2 linked regions of the Homo sapiens genome follow. The protein of the gene in region 1 purifies or fractionates together with the protein of each later gene. This does not show direct contact. Each region holds a gene or a part of one and is shown on either strand. Other genes may lie near its edges. The genes, in order: JARID2 and EHMT1.

The links.
Region 2: the proteins of JARID2 (region 1) and EHMT1 purify together in Homo sapiens (affinity purification with western blotting, with the first as the bait; one study listed by BioGRID). This does not show direct contact.

Annotation. Positions count from the first base shown.
Region 1 is NC_000006.12:15,497,382-15,501,196, forward strand, and holds part of JARID2 (protein Jumonji), read left to right. Parts: intron 1-3,525; coding exon 3,526-3,815.
Region 2 is NC_000009.12:137,779,302-137,783,116, reverse strand, and holds part of EHMT1 (histone-lysine N-methyltransferase EHMT1), read right to left. Parts: intron 3,483-3,815; coding exon 3,400-3,482; intron 827-3,399; coding exon 720-826; intron 1-719. UniProt on the Homo sapiens protein: Histone methyltransferase that specifically mono- and dimethylates 'Lys-9' of histone H3 (H3K9me1 and H3K9me2, respectively) in euchromatin.

The sequences.
Region 1 (3,815 bases):
CCGGGCGCGGTGGCTCACGCTTGTAATCCCAGCACTTTGGGAGGCTGAGGCGGGCAGATCATGAGGTCAGGAGATCGAGATCACGGTGAAACCCCGTCTCTACTAAAAATACAAAAAAATTAGCCGGGCGTGGTGGCGGGGGCCTGTAGTCCCAGCTACTTGGAGAGGCTGAGGCAGGAGAATGGCGTGAACCCAGGAGGCGGAGCTTGCAGTGAGCCGAGATCACACCACTGCACTCCAGCCTGGGTGACAGAGTGAGATTCCGTCTCAAAAAAAAAAAAAAAGTATTGAGCTTGGATCTGGGGTGAGCCCCCACTCTGGGTCTGGGCCCCTTGCTTCCCCTGGGCTGTCACCTCCTACCCACAACTGCTGGAGTTAAAGCAGGGGCCGGGGGGCCAGTGGGGAGCGCTGCCCCTCTGGATTCCACACTGGATTATAGAGGCTGGAAGCCCAAGGTCTAGGGGCCAGCAGGGTTGGTTTCTCCCGAAACCAACAAGACCTCCCTCCTTGGCTTGTGCATGGCTGTTTTCTCCCTGTGTCCTCACAGGGTCCTACCTCTATGTGTGTCTGTGTCTTCATCTCCTCTCCTTAGAAGGACATTGGATTAGGGCCCATCCTACTGACCTCTTTCTAACATAATTACCCTTTTGAAGACCCTGTCTCCAAATTCATTCATGTCCTGAGGTACTGGAGGTCAGGGCTTCAACATATGAATTTGGAGGGATCACCATGCAGCCCATAGCCCTCTAGGGTCCTGTAGGCCATTTTTTATCCTGCTCAGCCTTGTCTCTTCTTCCTCTGAGCTTCAGTTTCTCTGGCGATTTTGTCAAGGCCACAGGTCAAGGGATCTGTTGACCTTTTTTCTGAGACCAGGTTTTTTCTGAGACCTTTTTTCTGAGCTCTGGCTGGGGCTGTTGGAAACTTGTCACAGTGGATCCTTAGTGAATGCATATCTGGGCTGTCATGCAGACCCTTGCTCCTCAGGGTGGGTTGCAGGCAGATCCTCCTCTTGGGTTCCCCTGTAGCCCTCCTTCCCTGTCATCCTCTCTTCAGTCCTGCCACTGGGGACACAGGGTGAGGATGAACTTGCCTTGTTAAGGCTAAGTGGATTCTGTGGAGTGAGGTGCATCCAGGTAAGGTTGCAACCCCATCAGTCTAGACCCATGGGAGGAAACAGGCCACACCTCCATTTTGGAGATCCTCAATTTTCAAAGGCATGGAGACGTGTAGCCATCATTTAAGTGTCAGGGATTTGGCAGCAAGATAGGCTTCCAGGCAGGATGGAGGTTTCGTGGTTCCCCTCAGCAGGTGCCTGCCAGGACTGATGCCTGAGTGACAGTCACCTTAACTTGCAAGAGTTCTTGGTTTGTGCTCTGCTGTTGGGAATAGCACGTGATAGGAAGCAGTGCAGGGAGCAGGCTCTGCACACGCGTGCACCCACGCCCGCTGACCACGCCCCATGACTACTTGGGACACAGGATGACTGAGTCAGTGATGGAACCGCACCAAGTCCTCCTGCCTTTGGAGACCTGCAGACAGGAGGGAAACATTCCAAGTTTCCCTCCTCTGCTAGGTGGATGATGGAGCCTCGAGAGCACACTTGACATCGTAGTGACAGCGCCTTTTGTTTAGAGTAGGTTTTTCTTTACCCTCGACTCCCTTACCCTGGGACAAAAGCCATACTGTGCCTCCCTGTGGTGTGCTTATGCTTGTTGCCGTCACCCAGAAGTCTAAGGCGTCTGACATTCTGTCCCAGGGGTACTGACCTGTCTGTGACCCAGCAAGGCCTCAGGGCTGGGGTCTGAGCTCAGCCATCTGACAGTGGTAGAAACTTAATAACTTTGAAGTAATAGCCTAAAATCCACCCCAGCAGATGTGCCTTCTGCCTCTGTGTAGGTTCACTTCCACCGCAGGTCCCAGGGAGCCGCCGTGCCGCTGGCGGGAGTTGGGTGGGGAAGGGGCTCGGCCACGTAGCAGCCTCAAGGCCCTGAGTGGGAGTGATCGCAGCGGATGAGGATTCCATGAAGAATTCTTGCAAGCGCTGTGTGATTTTCAGGTGCTCTTGCGTTATAATCTACTTAGAGTGAAATATGAAAGTGTGGATTTCCTCCCTTCTGTGACCTGTGTTCTGAGTCACTCGGACGGTGGAGGACTTGTTTTGGTTGGGGGACTCGTTTTGGTGCCTACCTCTGTAAGTTGAGACAGTACCCACCTGCCCTCGGAGGAAGAACTCCCGATTGTCAGCCAGAGCCACCGTGAGTCCCACCTGTGACTCTGGGAGTCTGTGAGACCTGGAGTTTGTTGTGGAGTCTCAGTTCTTAGGTCCCTCCTGTCGAGGCTGGGGACAGTTCCCTCATGGATGTTACCCCAACTCCCCTGTTCTCCACAACCACATCAGTCCACTGTCCTGCCATTTAGTGTGAGTGGAATTCAGGCTGCTGTGTCCCCATCCCTGGTCTTGCTGGTGTGCTGGGAACTCGCTCTCTGTGTGTGCTGTGTCTGCCGAGGTGGTTCAGACGCTTCACCTAGTGGGTCCTGTCATGCTTGGTATGTGCAGCGACCCTGCCTGGACTGGATCCGTGCACACTTTACCTTTTATTACTTAAAAACAATATATCCCCACACTCTAAAGATTTAAAACGTTGTTAATTTGTACTTTGTTTAGTATTTTGTTGATGGTTATTTTGGAAAATCTCCCCTACCCCCCTTCCTTTATTTGGCCCGAGGGAGGTTGCTTTCTCCATTCCCATCTAGAAAAGCCACTGGGCGCGCGTTAAAACCTGCCCAGGTTTGATGTGCATTTGCGCTGCTCTGTGGCCTGATCAGGAGGGGCACTGAGCACCAGCTTATGCACTGAGAAGCAGCCCGCTGTCTGGATGGGCGAGGGACGAGGCATAGATGTGCTGCCCTGTGTCCTCACGCAGGTGTTGCTCTTTGCTCTGGAAATCCAGCAGGATGGAAAATAGACTTCCTTTGTGTGAGTGAGTGGGTGGATGGGTGAAGTTGAGTGAGTGAGTGGGTGGGCATTGGGAATTATAGAAGGGGAATTGGGAGTTGGTAACAAGCATGTGTCAAAGCTATTCTAGGTGACGCTGGGCCGTGGGTGCAGCCAGGACCCCTACCCACTCCTCACCAGGGAGCTAGTCTTCTCATGACACCCGCCTCCATGTGACAACACATGTACCAGTACATGGTACACTGGGATGTTCCTCCCTGTATGTCTGTCTGGCCAGCTCGCATCCTTTTCCAGCCAAGCCCCAGCTTAAATGCTGCCTCCTCAGACGCTCCCCACCTAAAATGGTAGTCCCTCGTTCCACCTGCTCTTCGTAGCAAGTGGTCATGACCCATCATTTTGTAACGCCCTTCTCTCTGTGGACCGGGAGTCTGCTGTTCACCACTCTCACCCCAGAGCCTGTCAGAGTCCTGGCTCATAGTAGGAGTTCAAGAAGTACAGGTTGAATGAGGAACATCTTGTTCGTGTCTCTTTCACTAACTGTCCCGTTTTTTTCCCCTTCGCTGTCCCAGGGGGCTGTGAGCTCGACCTGGCCTGCTTTTTCCGGCTGATTAATGAGATGGGCGGCATGCAGCAAGTGACTGACCTCAAAAAATGGAACAAACTAGCAGACATGCTGCGCATCCCCAGAACTGCCCAGGACCGGCTGGCCAAGCTGCAGGAGGCCTACTGCCAGTACCTACTCTCCTACGACTCCCTGTCCCCAGAGGAGCACCGGCGGCTGGAGAAGGAGGTGCTGATGGAGAAGGAGATCCTGGAGAAGCGCAAGGGGCCGCTGGAAGGCCACACAGAGAACGACCAC
Region 2 (3,815 bases), on another chromosome or scaffold:
ACCCACATTACAATGAGGTACAACTTCAGACCAGTGGGGTTCAAGGAAAGTTCCTAAAGTCTCCAGAAATAATAGGTCACACACAAAGGATCAGAAGTCAGACTGCACCAGACTCAAACCTGGCACTTGAGAAACAGGGGATCCAACACCGGGATCAGGGAAGGGGCGTCACAGGGGGACAAACAGCGTCGTGTGTCTGAACCCAGAGACAAGCGGGCAGCGTTCAGATGGTTCAGAATAAATTAGCAGGTGGCAGAGTCAACTCAACCAACAGAAACACAAGCCAGTGATTAACGACAGACACAACATACCCTGTAGACGACGTGGTTCAGCTTGAAAATGCTCACACGATCTGATCTAAACAAAATGGGAGCCAGTCAACGGGGCTGGGGGAGGGGCGTCCGTGCCTCTGCGAGTGCTTGGCTCCCCCAGAGGGACGTCATGAGTGTGAAGAACCAAAACCAAAACCAAAGAAAGCAAATCAAGAAACAGCCAAATGGCGGCATGCTCTTCTCAAAGGCCGTGGTAAATGCCGGAAGAAACAGCGGGAAGCACTGATCCACCTGCAGGACTCGGGGGCAGAAAAGCTGACTCTGTGCCCGATTCACAGCACTACGGAACTCTTACACTGGAAGAACCGCGAACGTGGTATGATTTTACTTTGGTAAAAATAAAAGAGAGCAGGTGAAGAGCCCTAGGAGGGCGCCGTGCCGCCGCACCTGAACCAGCATGTGGCAGATGTCCACGTGTCCAGCCTCTGCCGCGGCGTGCAGTGGAGAGCGCTTATTCTGGTGCTCCATTTTGAAGTTGGGGTCAATTCCGTCCACTGTGAACAAACACAGTTTTATTAATGATTTCAGATGTAGCCACAGACTCCAGCTCAGGACTGTCACGATGGCTGGCAAGCACTCACAAATGACCATCCTCCACATAAACAGCCACCTCGAGCCACGCCGGAACCCGCCCACAGCACCATCCTCTGGACTTGAGACTTGAGTGTGCTAGTCTCCTGCGGAATTGAACAGGCAGGTCCCTCTGTCAGAACTAACTCGGCAAGGCACGCTCTTCCCTTTACCACCCTGCTCTAACTCTGAGGTTCCTTCTGTGTTTCTGTGTGGCCTGGCCATGGCCGCCCCAGGCCCAGTGAGGCGGCTGACCAGGGCAGACACACCCTAGGGGAGCAAGCAAGGCCGGGGACAGAGGCCTGAGCATCGGTCAATTCCCAGGAGGTCTGAGAGGACGGTGAGCAACGGAGCAGTGAGGTGACCTTCACAGGTGTCCTGTGAAGTCCATGACAAAATGATTAAAACTGCTGGTCAACATAAATAAACCTTTCTTTAAAAGCAAATAGTTTCACTTCTTTTTACTTGACGTACTGTCCAGTAAAGGGCTTCTTAATCATCCTTTTCAACCCAGAGACGATGAACGTCAGAGAAATCAAGCCTAAAGCTATGAGCTCAGAGACCAAATTATCACTGGGAAGGCTCTCTAACAAGTATGCTTTTGCGTATTAGAAATCTAATGCAATCGGTTTGCCTGTTATAAAATACCTATAGCTGAAGCCTACTTTGTCCACACCACAGCTGCTGCGATCAGCACAGGTGAAACATCGACTGCCGTCATCACCACACATTCCAGCGTCATGACCACACATCTCAGCATCATCACCGCATATCCCAGCGTCATCACCACACATCTCAGCATCATCACCACACATCCCAGCGTCATCACCACACATCCCAGCGTCATCACCACACGTCTCAGCGTCATCACCACACGTCTCAGCGTCATCACCACACATCTCAGTGATGCCGTCATCACCACACATCTCAGCGTCATCACCACACGTCCCAGCGTCGTCACCACACGTCCCAGCGTCGTCACCACACGTCCCAGCGTCGTCACCACACGTCTCAGCGTCGTCACCACACGTCCCAGCGTCATCACCACACGTCTCAGCGTCATCACCACACGTCTCAGTGATGCCGTCATCACCACACATCTCAGCGTCATCACCACACATCCCAGCGTCATCACCACACATCCCGGCGTCATCACCACACGTCTCGGCGTCATCACCACACGTCTCGGCGTCATCACCACACATCCCGGCGTCATCACCACACATCCCAGCGTCATCACCACACGTCTCAGCGTCATCACCACACATCTCAGTGATGCCGTCATCACCACACATCTCAGCGTCATCACCACACATCCCAGCGTCATCACCACACATCCCGGCGTCATCACCACACGTCTCGGCGTCATCACCACACGTCTCGGCGTCATCACCACACATCTCAGTGAGATGCCGTCATCACCACACATCTCAGCGTCATCACCACACATCCCAGCGTCATCACCACACATCCCAGTGTCATCACCACACATACCGGCGTCATCACCACACGTCTCGGCGTCATCACCACACGTCTCGGCGTCATCACCACACATCTCAGTGAGATGCCGTCATCACCACACATCTCAGCGTCATCACCACACATCCCAGCGTCATCACCACACATCCCAGCGTCATCACCACACATCTCAGTGATGCCATCACCACACATCTCAGCGTCATCACCACACATCCCAGCGTCATCACCACACGTCTCAGCGTCATCACCACACGTCTCAGCGTCATCACCACACATCTCAGTGATGCCGTCATCACCACACATCTCAGCGTCATCACCACACATCCCAGCGTCATCACCACACATCCCAGCGTCATCACACGTCTCAGCGTCATCACCACACGTCTCAGCGTCATCACCACACATCTCAGTGATGCCGTCATCACCACACATCTCAGCGTCATCACCACACATCCCAGCATCATCACCACACATCCCAGCGTCATCACCACACATCCCAGCGTCATCACATCTCAGCGTCATCACCACACATCTCAGCGTCATCACCACACATCTCAGTGATGCCGTCATCACCACACATCTCAGCGTCATCACCACACATCTCAGCGTCATCACCACACATCCCAGCGTCATCACATCTCAGCATCATCACCATACATCTCAGCGTCATCACCACACATCTCAGCGTCATCACCACACATCTCAGGGCCACAACTCACTAGTTTTGCTTTTCCTTAATCTCTATTTCTGCTTGATTTAATAATCACATACCAATTCCTTTTTAAAAATTAGAACTTCGTAGAGAATAGTTCTAATATCTTGCGTAACTGGATATGAACACCATAAAAAGCCTCAACACCAGTGGGCAACCTATTCTCACTCATCAGAGAACTCGGAGACACAGAAACAGAAAACCAAAACGAGACCAGCCTCCTGAGGAAGGAGTAACAACTGCTCTCGGCTTCTTTCAGTGCCACAGGGCCGGCTGCATGTGCCCGGGCCGCAGGAAGGCACTTACCCAGCATGAGGAGCACCTTCTGAAGCTCCCCTTGCCTGGCGGAGAAGTACAGCTGCTTTGGGTGGAAGCGAAGCTTCTTGGGTCTGTGGGAAGCACAAGACAACAGTCAGCATGGGGCTCTGCATCCCACACATGAAGCTGAAGGCTGGAAGGCCCGGCGGACATCTCCCCACCAGCCCCTCAAGCTCATGGGGCTCCGCGTCCCACACATGAAGCTGAAGGCTGGAAGGCCCGGCAGACGTCTGCCCACCAGCCCCACAAGCTCAAGTGCAAACCCACCAGTCGAGATATCTCATGGTAAAAACTGCGGACAAGAAACTGCGTTCCCAGTCACCGCAGGAGAACACTACGCACTGTGAGGCTTTTACACAACACGACGACAGAACCAGCGCAGGATGCAGGGGAACCTCATCTAC